Linked DNA regions of Homo sapiens: region 1 is linked to region 2. A link means that fine-mapping ties the variant in region 2 to the expression of a gene that starts in the linked region. Tissue or cell type: stomach. Region 2 holds a variant in brackets; the other region holds the start of a gene. All regions are shown on one strand. Distances are between the middles of the regions.

What was found. PIP is the estimated chance that this variant, and not a neighbour inherited with it, causes the effect.
Region 1: DRAM1 starts here. The variant in region 2 is fine-mapped to the expression of DRAM1 in stomach (GTEx, PIP 0.99).

What each region holds. Positions count from the first base shown.
Region 1 is chr12:101,872,714-101,880,898 of GRCh38, reverse strand. It overlaps DRAM1 (DNA damage regulated autophagy modulator 1), which reads right to left and starts at 3,319. Exons shown (of 7, transcript NM_018370.3): 1 at 2,979-3,319. The coding sequence starts at 3,109. It also overlaps the pseudogene HSPE1P4. RefSeq lists enhancers at 2,433-2,482, 2,623-2,712, 2,351-3,132, 3,293-3,342, 3,133-3,915 and silencers at 2,933-3,272, 3,523-3,682.
Region 2 is chr12:101,897,985-101,906,169 of GRCh38, reverse strand. It overlaps DRAM1 (DNA damage regulated autophagy modulator 1), which reads right to left. Exons shown (of 7, transcript NM_018370.3): 3 at 4,737-4,879. Among named protein-coding and RNA genes, the nearest start is that of DRAM1, 24 kb to the right of the region's middle. RefSeq lists an enhancer at 6,578-6,747. The variant C/T (reference allele first, on the strand shown) is at 4,114.

The DNA of each region.
Region 1 (8,185 bases), 25 kb after region 2:
ATGCCTTTTTCTCCTGTAATTCTGCTTTTCCTGAAGGCTTCCTTGTTAAATTTTAAACCCCTTCCTTGTAGGGTCTGTGATTTGAGCATCTCATAAGTGGTTCACCTTGTCAGCTTATTTTCCCATTTCTGAATGTCTCCCATTTCAAGTTCACCTTAGAGTGATATTAATCACAACTACATCAGACACCTCTATGAACATTCAAAACCTGCCTTTGACAGCCTGGCCAATGAATATCACGTATTATCTGTCCTCAACCTTCAGATCTGGGACAAACATGACTACTGTTTTCTCAATAAGAAGCACTGCAGGCTGGGTGTGGTGGCTCACGCCTGTAATCCCAACACTTTAGGAGGCTGAGGCAGGTGGATCATCTGAGGTCAGGAGCTTGAGACCAGCCTGGCCAACATGGTGAAACCCCGTCTCTACTAAAAATACAAAAATATTAGCTGGGCGTGGTGGCAGGTGCCTGTAATCCCAGCTACTTGGGAGGCTGAGTCAGGAGAATTGCTTGAACCAGGAGGTGGAGGTTGCACTGAGCCGAGATTGCACCATTGCACTCCAGCCTGGGCGACAGAGCAAGACTCTGTCTTAAAAAAAAAAAAAAAAAAAAAAAAAAAGGAAGCATTGCAGGACACAGCAAGATGCCATCTCTACAAATACAAAAAAAAATTAAAAATTAGCTGGGCATGGTTGTGCATGCCTATCTACAGTCCCCAGCTATTCAGGAGGCTGAGGTGGGAGGATCAATGGAGCCCAGGAGGTCGAGGCTGCAGTGAGCTGTGATCCCACCACCACACCACAGACTGGGCAACAGAGCGAGACTTTGTCTGAAAAAACAAACAAACAAACAAACAAAAGAAGCAGCACTGCAGGTAGAGCAGCTCTTTACCTTTTTTTTTTTTTTCTGAGATGGAGTCTCGCTCTGTCACCAGGCTGGAGTGCAGTAGCTCTGTCTCGGCTCACTGCAACCTCTGCCTCCCGGGTTCAAGCAATTCTGCCTCAGCCTCCCGAGTAGCTGGGACTACAGGCGTGCACCACCACGCCCAGCTAATTTCTGTATTTTTAGTAGAGATGAGGTTTTACCATGTTGGCCAGGATGGTCTCGATCTCTTGACCTCATGATCCGCCAGCCTCGGCCTCCCAAAGTGCTGGGATTACAGGCGTGAGCCACTGTGCCCAGCTGAGCAGGTCTTTACTTTTACACAAGTCTAGAAGGATCTATCCTGCTTCAGAAGCAAGATGATGGCACTTGGGCCTGAGATGTGCCATGAGAAACCAAGCCTAGGTTTCTTCCAAGCATAATACCAGATGGGAGGGCCAGGCGTGGTGGCTCACGCCTGTAATCCCAACACTCTGGGAGGCCAAAGCAAGGGGAATGCTTGAGCCCAGGAGTTTAAGACCAGCCTGGGCAATATAGTGAGACTTTGTCTCTACTGAAAATAAAAAATAATAACAATAAATGGAAAAAACCGAAAGGCCAGATGAGAACATCTTGATATACATAACATCTCCTTTCATAGGCAAAAACCACCATCATTACTGCAAATTTGCACTATTCTACCTATTGCTGTATTCCCTGCATCTTGTAAATGCTGGTTCCCTGGGAACACTGGCTCACACCTGTAATCCTAGCATTTTGGGAGGCCAAGGCAAGAGGATCACTTGAGGTCAGGAATTTGAGACCAGCCTGACCAACATAGTGAAACCCTGTCTCTACTAAAAATACAAAAAAATTAAGCCAGGTGTGGTGGTGCACGCCTGTAATCTCAGCTACTTGGGAGGCTGAGGCAGGAGAATCGCTTGAACCCGGGAGGCAGAGGTTGCGGTGAGCCGAGATTGTGTCACTGCACTCCAGCCTGGGCGACAGAACAAGACTCTGTCTCAAAAAAATAAAAAAAATTTTAAAAAATGCTAGTCCCCTCTTGCTCGATCTTTGTTTCCCCTTTCTCCACACTCCTCACCCCCACCCCCAAAAAAAGGAAAAAAACAAACAAACAAACAAAAAAACACAGAACATTGCTCACCAGACAGAATGGCTGCAGGGAAGAAGACGCCCTACATTTTCTATCATAGCAGTAACAAACCTTGGGTGTCACCAACCTTATCATCCGTTCACCAACCAATGCCTGTCCAGAGGGGTCACACTACTTAGATAAGGATGGATGGTTCTAACGTTTAAAGAATCCTGCCACTATGAGAAAGGCACTGAGCTGGAACCCACATAGGAGGATCAGACCACTGTCCCTGGCACTGAAGTGCCCCTCAGGAAGGTAGAGGCCAAAGCACAGGAAAAGTGAATGGGTAAAATAACACAAAAGATGTCACAAGTTGTTGACAAGTTGAGGACTTTGGGGTCACAGTGCCCAGAGGTGTCTGGTGCAGCTCCAGAGAATTTAAGCCAGACTCCCAGAGACCTGGGGGCAGCACAGTGTTGCTTTCTGCATGGCCGGGTGTGAATTCTGCTCCTACCATTAACTAGTGTGACATCAGTGTCACGTTGATGATATTTCATCAACTTTACACCACCGCTCGCTTGCGGGAATAATAAGCCCAAACATCCACTTCAAGGGATGTTGGGATGCAGAAGTGAAAATAGTGGCTGTTTAGCATATACCTGGATCTACCTCTTGTATAATATATGTCATCTATCAGAACCCATCTTGTTTCAATATCGCCTAAGAACGTCCTGCTGAGATTCTGTCCCATACCCAGAATGAAAGCTCTACCATCTATCCTGAACCTCTCCTTGCTGCCACCCTGTTCCATGCTCCGGGTACAGGCAGAAGTGCTCAGCGCCGCACCCGCTGCCTCCCTAAACATCCCAGGCTATCGGGAGCACCTCTCCTCCTGCTCCCACCTCTGCCTGACCACACGACGCCCCAAGCTGGGTCCGGACGCCTTCCCTCCCCGTCGGCAGCGCTCCCTGTGGTCCCTGTGCCTGCTCCTGGGGCCCTGACGCCCACCCTGCCACTCACCTGATATACGGGAGGAAGGGGTTGACGTGCCCGGAGAGCACGGCGACCACGTAGGAGATAATGAAGGCGGCTGACGACCAGGTCACCAAGAGGAAGGGGACGAAAGCCATTCCCCTCAGGAAGCACAGCATCGCGCCGCCGCCGCCGCCGACGGAGTGCTGCGCCCAGCGGGGCCGGGCGCCGGGTTGCTCCGGGCTGCCTGGAGGCGGCGGCCGGGCGCGTACACTCACGGACGGTGGGAGGGGAGGCTCCGCGACGGCCGGGGCAGGCCCAGCCCCGGAGGGAGGGGAAGCGCGAGGAGCGGAGCGAGGCTGCGGGCGGCGAGGCTGCCGGGCCAGAGTGGGTGGGGCGCGGGCTGCCCGGGCTTGTTGCGAAACGAGTGAAGTCACAAAGCGGCCCGGCAGGGTCGGAGGCGCCCGGCGAGCTCCAAGCGGACGCGACTACGGAGCCGCCGGAGGGGACGCGGGGTCGGGTTCCTTTCGCTTTTGGTTTGGACACTCGGCGGAGGCCGGGTTGGGCGCGGACGGGCGGCGTGGGGTCACTGGCGGGGACGCCCGCTCTGGCCTTCCCACTCTGGCCCTACCGCGCTGGCTCTTGCGCAACTCTGGAGAAAAGGATTTATTTCTCCCAACCCCTCCCTCCCGGGGGATTTCCGGAGTGCCGGGCCTCGCACCCCGAGGGCGCCCCCTCCGAGGTCCCGCCGCCGGCGCTTCGCAGCAGTGAGAGTGGCCACCGCGTGGTGACACCCATGCCATCCGGTCGCGCTGCTGCTGCGGGGGTCGGGCAGAAGTGTTCAATGAGGTTCGCCAGGTCACGGGGCGCAGATGTGGCTCCCACCTCAATGGTGAACACCCGAAAACCCAGACAGGGTGGGAACGGGTGGGGTGGAGAGTACGCGGGTGGGGTGCGGGGCAGGCGGGTGGGACTGCGCGCCCACGGAGCCGGGAGGCCCATTGTGCTGCTTTCCAGGAGAGCGCAACTGGAGAATATTTCCTGGAAATAAGATTTCCCAGGCCGGGCGCCGTGAATAGCCATCACTTTGGGAGGCATCCAAAAGCCATCACCCCTGGAATGCCACCACTTTGGGAGGCCGAGTTGGGAGGATCGCTTGAACCCAAGAACTAGAGATCAGCCTGGGTAACATAGCGAAACCCCTCTTCTACAAAAAAAAAAAAAAAAAATGAAAAAGAAAAAAAGCCGGTTCCAGTTACTCGGGAGACTGAGTTGGGATGATCACTTGAGCCTTGGGGGTCGAGGCTGCAGTGAGCCTTTATCACACCACTTCACTCGGCCTGGGTGACAGAGCAAGACCTTGTCTCAAAAAACAAACAAACAAAAAAAAAACAAAAAAAACTCCCCTCCAGGTTCTGGAGTAGCCCAGACTCGGAGCCTTGGCCTAAGATGATTAATAGTGACTTGATACATTTCAAGCCCTGTGAAAGGGATTTGTGTTCTGGAGGCACTTATAATATAAGCACATGATTTTGATAGTTTAGGGAGTCTGAGCCCAACATATGTGGCCAAAATTGTTGGGTCATTGGTGACCAAAGATAGGTTCCTTTCAGCCACAAACACATTTCATGGGCGCCATGCTAGGCTACAAAGATGAAATAGTAATAGTACCCTCAGGACGAGGACACTCATAGATCAAAATAACAAAATTAGGCCAGGCGTGGTGGCTCATGCCTGTAATCCTAGCACTTTGGGAGGCCAAGGTGGGTGGATCACCTGAGGTCAGGAGTTCGAGACCAGCCTGGCCAACATGGTGAAACCCCATCTCTACTAAAAATACAAAAAATTAGTCAGGCATCATGGCTCACGCCTGTAATCCCAGCTACTCAGGAGGCTGAGGCAGGAGAATCGCTTGAACCTGGGAAATGGAGGTTTTCTCAGTGAGCTGAGATCACACCACTGCATTTCAGCCTGGGTGAGAGAACGAGACTCTGTCTCAAAAATATAAATAAATAAAAACAAAATTATGTTATGTGGTTTATTAAATGGAAAGGAGAGGATTTTAAAAAGTAGAGACATGCCCAGAGCTGAGGGCCAGGGGCCTGGGCTCAGAGGAAGGACCACGGAGGTTTTCTGACAGATGACATCAGAGTTTTCAAAAGGAAGTAATTACTAACCAGGCAAAGAAAAATAAGATTAGCATTCCAGGCCCAGAAAACAACTGGAGGAAATGCATACACAGAGCTTGCTTCCCTGGGACTATGAAAGCACTTAAATAAGTGTGAGGCAGCAAATGGAGAGAGAAACAAAGAGGCAAAGTCACCAGAGTCCTGCTGAGAATCTTGGATTATTTTTGGTATTAAGGAGAAAGTAAGAACATGGGCAGACTAGTATTTCAAGAGATCACTGTGGCCGTGGAGTGAGTGCCCGCCATACAAAACAAAATAGAAAATTTAAAATAAGGCTTTTTAAAAACCACAAAAGCTGGCCAGGCATGGTAGCTCACAGTTCTGTAATCCCGGCGCTTTGGGAGGCCGAAGCCTGGACAATATAGTGAGACCCGCAACCATATCTACAAAAAATTTAAAAATTAGCTGGGTGTGGTGTTGCATAACCTGTGGTTCCAGCTACATGAGAGGCTTACGTGGGAGGCTCACTTGAGCCCGGAGTTTGAGGCTGCAGTGAGCTATGATCACACCACTGAACTCCAGCCTGGATCACAGATCGAGACTCTATTTCAAAAACAAATAAAAATTTAAAAATGGTCAGGTGCAATGTAATCCCAGCACTTTAGGAGGTTGAGGCAGGCACATGACCTGAGGTCAGGAGTTCGAGACCAGCCTGGCCAATATGATGAAGCCCTGTCTCTACTGAAAATACAAAAATTAGCTGGGCATGGTGGTGCGCGCCTGTAATCCCAGCTACTCGTGAAGCTAAGGCATGAGAATCGCTTGAACCTGGGAGGCAGAGATTGCAGTTGAGCTGAGATTGCAGCCACTGCACTCCAGCCTGGGTAATAGAGCGAGACCCTGTCTTAAAAAAAAAAAAATGGCCAGGCACAGTGGCTCACGCCTGTAATTCCAGCACTTTGAGAGGTGGAGGCCAGTGGACCATGAGGTCAGGAGTTTAAGACCAGCCTGGCCAACATGGTGAAACCCCGTCAATGCTAAAAAATACAAAAATTAGCCAGGCATGGTGGCGGGCACCTGTAATCCCAGCTACTCAGGAGGCTGAGGCAGGAGAACTGCTTGAACCCAGGAGGCAGAGGTTGCAGTGAGCAGAGACGGTGACATTGCACTCCAGCCTGGTCAACAGATAGAGACTATGTCTCTAAATAAATAAATAAATTTTAAAAATAAAAAATAAAAATCACAAAAGTTAGCAACCATGGTTTCATTGTAATCTCTACCTAGGTTTCTGTGTTCTGAAAATCACTCTATTCCTTCCCTTTTTTCCTTTCGTGCCCTACTACTGATTCATCAGACTAAAAAAAAAAACTCTCCCTAAGCAAAGAAATTATAATATCAAAGGGAATTCACCTGATCATCTTACCCTTCTGCTGCTTATGTAATTTCCTTAATTAAGCAATTCAATTGGCTAATCACTTTTAACACAGATATAAGAATTGTCTGGCCTGGCGCGGTGGCTCACACCTCTAATCCCAGCACTTTGGAAGGCCGAGGCTGGCGGATCACGAGGTCTGGAGATCAAGACCATCCTGGCTAACACGGTGAAACCGCGTCTCTACTAAAAATACAAAAACAAAATTGGCCGGGCGTGGTGGCGGGCGCATATAGTCCCAGCTACTCAGGAGGCTGAGGCAGGAAAATGGCGTGAACCCGGGAGGCGGAGCTTGCAGTGAGCCGAGATCGCGCAACTGCACTCCAGACTGGACGACAGAGCAAGACTCTGTCTCAAAAAAAAAAAAAAAAAAAAAAAAAAAAAAAAAAAAATCTGAGGCCGGGCATGGTGGCTCACGCCTGTAATCCCAGCACTTTGGGAGGCCAAGGCGGGCGGATCACCTGAGGTCAGGAGTTCGAGACCAGCCCAGCCAACATGGTGAAACCTCATCTCTACTAAAAATACAAAAATCAGCCGGGTGTAGTGGTGGGCCCCTGTAATCCCAGCTACTCGGGAGGCTGAGGCAGGAGAATCGCTTGAGCCCGGGAGGCGGAGGTTGCAGTGAGCCGAGATCATACCACTGCACTCCAGCCTGGGCAACAAAGAGCAAAACTCAGTCTCAAATAAAAAAAGAGTTGTCTGACTATAGAGCTAACAAGAATTTGTCACTTAAGATGAGTATGTATACACGCGAGCAGAGTACGAGTCTGAGGTGGAGGGAATCATGGCAAGCCAAGCGTTTAGAAAGTTTCTTCCACTCCTTGACCGAGTTTTGGTTGAAAGGCGTGCTGCTGAAACTGTAACCAAAGGAGGCATTATGCTTCCAGAAAAATCTCAAGGAAAATTATTGCAAGCAAGAGTAGTCGCTGTTGGATGGGGTTCTATGGAAAGGGTAGAGAGATTCAACCAGTTAGCGTGAAAGTTGGAGATAAAGTTCTTCTCCCAGAATATGGAGGCACCAAAGTAGTTCTAGATGACAAGGATTATTTCCTATTTAGAGATGGTGACATTCTTAGAAAGTACGTAGACTGAAATAAGTCACTATTGAAATGGCATCAACGTGAAGCTGCCCATTCTACTGAAGTTCTGAAATCTTTCATCATGTAAATAATTTCCATATTTTTCTTTTATAATAAACTAATGACATCCAGTGTCTCCAAAATTGTTTCCTTGTACTGATATAAACATTTCCAAATAAAAATATGTAAATGAGTGTAAAAAAAAGAGTATGTATACATATATATTTAAAATAAATACACTATAAATGTAAAAGTTCTGGCTTCTTTTTTACTTTTTTTTTTTTTTTAGAGAGTCTCACTGTGTCACCCATGCTGGAGTGCAGTAGTGCGATCTTGGCTCACTGCAACCTCTGCCTCCCGGGTTCAAGCAATTCTTGTTCCTCAGCCTGCCAAGTAGCTGGGACTACAGGCATGCACCACCATGCCCAGCTAATTTGTTGTTATTGTTGTTGTTGTTGTTGTTGTTTTGAGGTGGAGTCTCGCTCCCATCATGCAGGCTGGAGTGCAGTGGCACGATCTCTGCTCGCTGCAACCTCCACCTCCTGGGTCCAAGCGATTTTCCTGCCTCAGCCTCCCAAGCAGCTGTGATTACAGGCATGTGCCACCACCCCCAGT
Region 2 (8,185 bases):
TGATTGGTGTTATATTCAAATATGACTGCACTGACTCTGCAATACATCATATAGTTTCTGTATACCTAAGATACCTTGCATGGGCCAGGTACTGTGGCTCACGCCTGTAATCCCAGCACTTTGGGAGGCTGAGGCAGGTGGATTACAAGGTCAGGACTTTGAGACCAGCCTCGCCAACGTGGTGAAACCGCGTATCTACTAAAAATACAAAAACTAGCCAGGCGTGGTGGCGCGTGCCTGTAATCCCAGCTACCAGGGAGACTGAGGCAGGAGAATTACTGGACCCCAGGAGGTGGAGACTGCAGTAAGCCGAGATTGTGCCACTGAACTACATACAGTCTGGGAGACAGAGCGAGACTCCATCTCAAAAAATAAATAAATACATAAATAAATAAATAAATAAATAAATAAAATCAGATGGGCATGATGGTGTGTGCCTGTAGTCCCAGCTACTTCGGAGGCTGAGGTGGGAGAATCACTTGAGCTTGGGAGACCAAGGCTGCAGTGAGCTATGATAGCACCACTGCACTCTAGTCTGGGCAACAGAGTGAGACCTTGTCTCAAAAAATAAAATAAAAATAAATAAAAGACTGGGCACAGTGGCTTATGTCTGTAAACTCATCACTTTGGGAGGCCAAGGCAGGTGTATCACTTGAGCTCAGGAGTTCAAGACCAACCTGGGCAATGTGGTGAAACACTGTCTCTGCAAAAACTACAAAAATTTGCTGGGCATGATGGCATGAACCTGTAGTTTTAGCTACTCAGGAGGCTGAGGTGGGAGGACTGCTTGAGCTCACAAGGCAGAGATTGCAGTGAGCCATGATCACACCACTGCACTCCAGCCTGAGCAACAGATCAAGACCCTGTCTCAAAAAATAAAGGTAAAAATACAAATACAAATAAATAAATAAATAAGATTCCTAACATAGGCATATAGATTCAGGGAAGTTATATATGAAAAATAAAATACGACAGGGTATGGTGGCTTGTGTTTGTAATCCCAACATTTTGGGAGGTGGAGATGGGAGGATCACATGAGGCCAGGAGTTGAAGAACAGCCTCAGAAACATAGCAAGACCCCATCTCTACAAAAGTGAAAATAAGAATTAGCTGGGCATGGTGATGCACCCATAGTCTCAGCTACTCAAGAGACTGAGACAGGAGGAGTTCAAGGCTTAGTCTAAGCGTTCAAGGTTACAGTGAGCTATGATTGTGCTATTGCATTCCAGCTTAGGTGAAGGAGCGAGACCCTTTCTCAACCAATCAATCAAAAAAGCAGGGAAATGATGTTTAGATCAGACATGAATTTTCGATAAAGTTAAAACCCGGCACTCTTTCTGGATTGCTTTTTAGAAACTCTCTTGGTAATTTAAAAGGTAATAACAACAGAGAGGGAGAGAGAGAGAGAATAGTTTAATAAAGCTCTATCAGCCAGGCGCGGTGGCTCACGCCTGTAATCCCAGCACTTTGGGAGGCCGAGGCAGGTGGATCACGAGGTCAGGAGATCAAGACCATCCTGGCTAATGTGGTGAAACCCCATCTCTACTAAAAATACAAAAAATTAGCCGGGCGTGGTGGCGGGCGCCTGTAGTCCCAGCTACTTGGGAGGCTGAGGCAGGAGAATGGCGTGAACTCGGGAGGCAGAGCTTGTAGTGAGCCGAGATTGCGCCACTGCACTCCAGCCTGGGTGACAGAGCAAGACTCTGTCTCAAAAAAAAAAAAAAAAAAAAAAAAAAAAAAAACCCCTAAAGCTCTATCACTCAGCTTCAAAAAAAAAAAAAGAATATGTGAATACTGACAGAGTTAAACCTTGGAAAGTTTCTTTTCTAAAAAGGAAACTTTAAAAGTTTTTATTTTTAATTGACAAATAATAATTGTTTATAGGCTGGGCACGATGGCTCACACCTCTCAGCACTTCAGGAGGCCGAGGTGGGAGGATCACCTGAGGTCAGGAGTTCAAGACATGCCTGGCCAACATGGCGAAACGCCATCTCTACTAAAAAAAAATACAAAAATCAGCTGGGCATGGTGCCAGGTGCCTGTAATACCATCTGCTCGGGAGGCTGAAGCAGGGATAATTGCTTGAACCTGAGAGGCGGAGGTTGCAGTGAGCCAAGATCGCGCCACTGCACTGCAGCCTGGGCAACAGAGAGAGACTCTGTCTCAAAAAATAATAATAATTGTTCATATTTATGAGGCTTATAGGGGTGTGTGTGTGTGTGTGTGTGTGTGTGTGTGTGTGTATGTGTGTGTGTGTTTCCAGAGGCACGGTCTCCCTGTGTTGCCCTATGTTGCCCAGACTAGTCTCAAACTCCTGGGCTAAAGCATTCCTCCTGCCTTGGCTTCCCTAAGTGCTGGGATTACAGGTATGAGCCACCACACCTGGCTGTAGATGTTTTGATGTATGTTTACACTGTGGAATGATTAAATCAAGGTAATTAACATATCAATCACCTCACATACTTATTCATTTTTTTTGTGATGAGAACATTTAAAATCTACTGTTTTAGCAATTTTGAAATATACAATACACTATTATTAACTATAGTCACCATACTGTGCAGTAATAGATCTCCAGAATTATTAATTCAGTCTAACTGAAACTTGGTACCCTTTGACCAATACCTCCCCGCTCCTCATCTTCCTCTTCACTCCTGTAACACCATTCTACTCTCTCCTGTAAGTTTGATTTTCTTAGATTCCACATATAAGTGACAGCATTCGGTATTTGTCCCTCTGTGACTGGCTTATTTCACTTAGCATAAGGTCCTCCAGGTTCATCCATGTTGCCACAAATGACAGAATTTCAAAAAGAAAACTTTCTGAGGGAAAATAAAGTATTGACAGAAGTTAGTGAGGACACACCAAAAAGTAGCCATCTCACCCACCCATTTGGGAAAAAGATTATCTGTGAAATTCTCAAAAATGTGATTTATTGCAACTCAAGAAAAATCACCATGGCTGGGCACGGTGGCTCATGCCTGTAATCCCAGCACTTTGGGAGGCCAAGGCAGGCAGATCACTTGAGTTCAAGACCAGCCTGGCCAACATGGGGAAACCCTATCTCTACTAAAAATACAAAAATTAGCTGGACATGGTGGTGGGTGCTTGTAATCCCAGCTACTCGGGAGGCTGAGGCATGAGAATCACTTGAACCCGGGGCGGAGGTTGCAGTGAACCGAGATCGCGCCACTACACTCTAGCCTGGGCGACAGAGCAAGACTCTGTCTCTACAAAAAAAGAAAAAAAAAAAAGAGGCAGTCACACTCTCTCTTGCCCACACATCTCAAAATCATCTTGAGTTAGCTCAAGTTGGTTTGCTCCTGATATGACGAAAATGAATTACAGGATACCAAACAAGGAAGTTGTAAAGATACAGTTATCGGAACAATGACAAGTCAAACACTTTGCTCCTTGGGAAGTTAAGATTCTATTTCTGGTTTTTGTGGATTTAATCACATCATTGAAGACTTAAGGGGAACCAAAAGTTGAAATTATTTAACCATCTAAGTTTTCTTCTTAAAGTCAGCCCTTAAATGGTTTAAAAACTGACATCTGTATCTCTCATGATGTGGTTAGTCAGAGGATAAAGTGATATATCTATACTAGCCCCCATTAAACCATAACCACACTGTACTAGACAAATTATACCACTCTAGGTCTTCCTTTTTAAATTTTGTGTGTGTGTGCATCCTGATGGTAGAACTATGCATCGTGTACTTGGTTTTTTTGTCACAGATATATCTTCATGTTAGCATTGAGGATAGCTCTCACAGGCTCTAGGAAGATGACTTCAATTCAAAGCTCGCCTCTGCCATGCATTATTCAACTGATCTTAGGCAAGTATTAACCTCTCTAGGCCTCCATTTTACCATTGATAAATGGGGAAAATAATAGTGCCTATCTTACAAGGCTTTTATTATAATTGTATGGTTAAAATATGGAATATTTTCTTAAACATGTGTCACAGGAAAATTTCAATAAATGTTTGTTGTTATGAAAAACAAAATGCATACTGTCATAAAAATATAAAGAAATGTCACCGGGAGCCTCCTCTTTGAATACCAGAGGTTTAAATGGTAGAATTGGTAAACACATACAAATATTTTCACA[C/T]TCTTAACAAAATCATCACAGTAGCTGAAGTAGCTCTCCCAACACATCAAACCACATCAATGACAACATGGAGCAATGCAAAGCCCAAGGCCTCCTCTGAATCACACACTCTCATAATCATGCAAATGTGCACCCCATTTCTCCCAAGTATCAGAACTCACTTTCAAATGCTTTTTTTTTTTTTTTTTGAGATAGAGTCTCGCTCTGTCAAGTGCAGTGGCACAATCTCGGCTCACTGCAACCTCCACCTTCCAGGTTCAAACAATTCTCCTGCCTCAGCTTCCTGAGTAGCTGGGATTACAGGCATGTGACGCCACACCTGGCTAATTTTGTATTTTTAGTAGAAATGAGGCTTCACCATGTTGGCCAGACTGGTCTTGAACTCCTGGTCTCATGATCCACCTCAGTTTCCCAAAGTGCTGGGATTACAGGTGTGAGCCACCACACCTGGCCCTGATTTCCAAATGTTAAAGGTTTCTAAAAAGCAAACTAACCCACTTATTGTAAACTCATCAAGCATTTAATGGCTATAATGGCATAAGTGTGCCTCTTGCATTTCTGCTGCTCTCTTCAGACACATACACTCCACCACTCCTCATAACTGAAAAAGCTCCAGATTATACCTGAAAATTGGCGACAATGCCCATTCCGAAACATCCCACCAATCCAAGCACTAAAGACACCAAGTTAAAAACAGGAGTGCTGAAATAGCAGGTTTGATTTTGCTTCTGTACTATTTTGTATCTTGTATACATCGTGGCTGCACCTGAAAAAGAAGAGAACTTTGATGAATGTTCATAATTTGATGTCTTTAGGATGAAAAACAGGAGCAGCTTTGTATCACTTTTTAAAAATGTACTGATTGCAAGTCTCCCCACTTTCCCACCCCTGTCCCTCCTGACTCCATCTTACTCTCTCCCCAGCATGTACAGACACACACACACACACACACACACACACACACACACACACACACACCCCTTGGCTGTTGTCCTTTTCATGTAAATGCTATTATAGTACATGTATTACTCTGTGACTTGCTTTTTCCATTTAACAGTGTACCATGGAGATCTTTTCAAGCAAGTACAAACAGATCTACTTCATTGTTTTCAGGGATCTTATCATGGTCTGTGGTATGAGATACTATATTTATTCCTCATTCTCCTAAGAATGAATTTCTACATTGTTTCCATGTTTTTCCTGCTACAAACAACACGCCATGAATATCCTTGTATATAAATCTTTGGGTTTCTGAAAGACCAGTTCCTAGAAGTAATATTACTGGGTCAAAAAACCATGCACAATTAGAAACACCTCCAAATTGCTCCAGCCCGTTGACGATTTAGACTCCCACCAGCAGAATTTGCGAGCAATTGTGTATGCCCTTGCCTTTTTAATTCTGTCAGTCTAATAAATGAAAATTCAACCTGTTGGGTTAGTTTGCATTTCTCTGATCATTAGCAAGATTTAGCAACTTTCAGTATATCTACTGGTCATTTGCATTTCTTCTTCTGAGAAATGCATGTTTACAATTTTCTTTTTATTCTTCTCTTGGGCTTGTCGATATCTAATTTGTAGTTACTTTTTACACATTATGTCCATTAGTCTATTATCTGCTATAAATATTACAAATTTTCTTCTGCTCTGCTATTTGTCTTTTAACATTGTATCTTGTATCTTACATCATTTGAAAGTTTTAATTTTTAATCTACTCATATCTATCAATTCTTCTGCGTTTTGTGTTTCTATTCCAAGGTTTAAAAAATATTCTCCTGTAATTTAATTATTGCATAGTTTTGCTTTTCATGTCTATTAAATTGCAATTGGTTTTTGTGTATGATGTGAGGAGGATAGTAAAGGTATGTTTTTCCAAATAGCTAGTCAATTAACCAAATACCATTTGTTGTAATTTGGCAATAAAATGTAGCCTCCATGAGAGCAGGGCTCTTGTCTGTTTTGTTGGCTGTTGTAAACTCAACACTAAGTCATAAACAAGCACAAACCCTATCATATAGTACATACTTAGTAAATGTTGAATAAATAAATAGCTACCATAATTTTAGATACATATTCCCTTTAACTCAGCAAATTTATCTTATAGAAAAACTCACACAAATATGCAAAGATATATTTAAAAGATGTTCACTTCAACATTAGAATTACAAAATACCAGAAATAGCCTAAATGTTGGACAATAGGGAACTGATTAAATAAATGATAATACATCCTTGTGAAAGATATCATGCATGTGTGGAAAGGATAAAGTAGATGTGTATATATTTACATAGTATGACGGCCATAATCTATTCCTGAATTTTTAAAAAGCAGGCTAAAAACTAATAACTTATCATAAATCTTTTTTTTTTTTTTTTTTTGTGGAGACAGGGACTTGCTCTGTCACCTGGGTGGGAGTGCAGCGGCACAGTCATGGTTCACTGCAGCCTTGACCTCCTGGGCTCAGGCAATTCTTCCACTTTATCCTTCCAAGTAGCTGGAACTACAGGCACACATCACCACACCCAGCTAACTTCTTTTTTCTTTCTTTCTTTCTTTTTTAACTTTTTGTAGAGATGAGATCTCACTACATTGCCCAGGCTGGTCTTGAACTCCTGGGCTCAACAGATCCTCCTGCTTCAGCCTCCCAAAATGCTAGAATTACAGGCATGAGCTCACATAGACTATTTCAAATGAATATATTTGTCAGTTTCTGCTTTATTCAGAAGCAAAAGCCGTATTTATCACTTGCTGTGATAAAATAATCTCTCTGTTTTCCAAGTCTGGATTCTTGGCAAGGATGGTGTAAGAGGGCACTGGGATTGACTGACTCCATATTGCTACTTCCCCTTGCTCACCTCCAAAACTTTAGGAGGACTACAAATGGTGATGCGGTGAAACTTTCCTGCTACCAAGTAGGATGAACAAATTCCAAAATGCCAAGTCACTAAGTAGGGTCAGCATCACTGTCCCTTCTCACACTGTACCAGTAGAGAGGAACAGAAAGCGTTGGTTACAAGATAGGCCCTTGGCAAACACTTGATTGTTTGGGGGGAGATTATAGAAGGACTAAGAGAAAATGCCCCACATCTGATATCTATATACTTGAATCACCTTATAGAAGACTGAGCTTTACATTAATTATACAATAGTTGTAATTAATATGCATTACATTAATTGGCTTATGACAAGGTTGCACCCTATCATCTGCATCTTAGGTACATCTGAGGAACTGAAAAGAAAAATCATACTATTCCTTGCTCCACCTGTCCCCTTTCTCTAACAGGTAAGATAATGCCTTTGTCAATGGTCCTCAAACTTTAGTGAGAAACCAAGTCCCCTAGAGTGCTTGTTTACAACACATCTTCAGGAACCCACACTCCCAAAGGTTCTGGTTGAGTAGCATGGCCCAGGAACCTGCATTTTACGAGAACTCCAGGTGACTTTTCATCAGCTTGCCTTCAGAATACACTTTGAGAAACTTAGCTTACGCATTGGGTGTCTTTGGCTTACATAAGTGTCTTGACCATAAATCAACACTTTTAAAAACTAAATTGCACTTAAAATCCGTTCCAGAAGTTTGGTATTTAAAACCACCTACAGCAAATCCTGTTACAAATTACTAATTAAAGTATAGTTCTCTAATAAAGCCATAATTTTTTATATCTTTTAACTTCAGTTTCTCAAAATAGGACAAAAATCTAGCTGCAAAGATTGTGCTTTTAAAAAAATTATACACAAGGCCGTGTGCAGTGGCTCACACCTATAAGTTCAGCACTTTGAGAGGCCAAGGCAGGTGGATCACTGAAGCCCGGGAGCTCAAGGCCAGCCTGGCAACATGGTGAAACCCCATCTCTACAAAAAACTACAAAAAATTAGCTGGGCGTGGTGGTGTGCACCTGTAGTACCAGCTACTCCGGAGGCTGAGGTGGGAGGACTGCTTGAGCCTGGCAGGTTGAGGCTGCAGTGAGCCGTGATCACGCCACTGCACTCCAGCCTGGATGACAGAGACCCTGTCTCAGAAAAAATAAATAAAATAAAATAAAAATTATATGAAAACTACAAATGACACATCAAC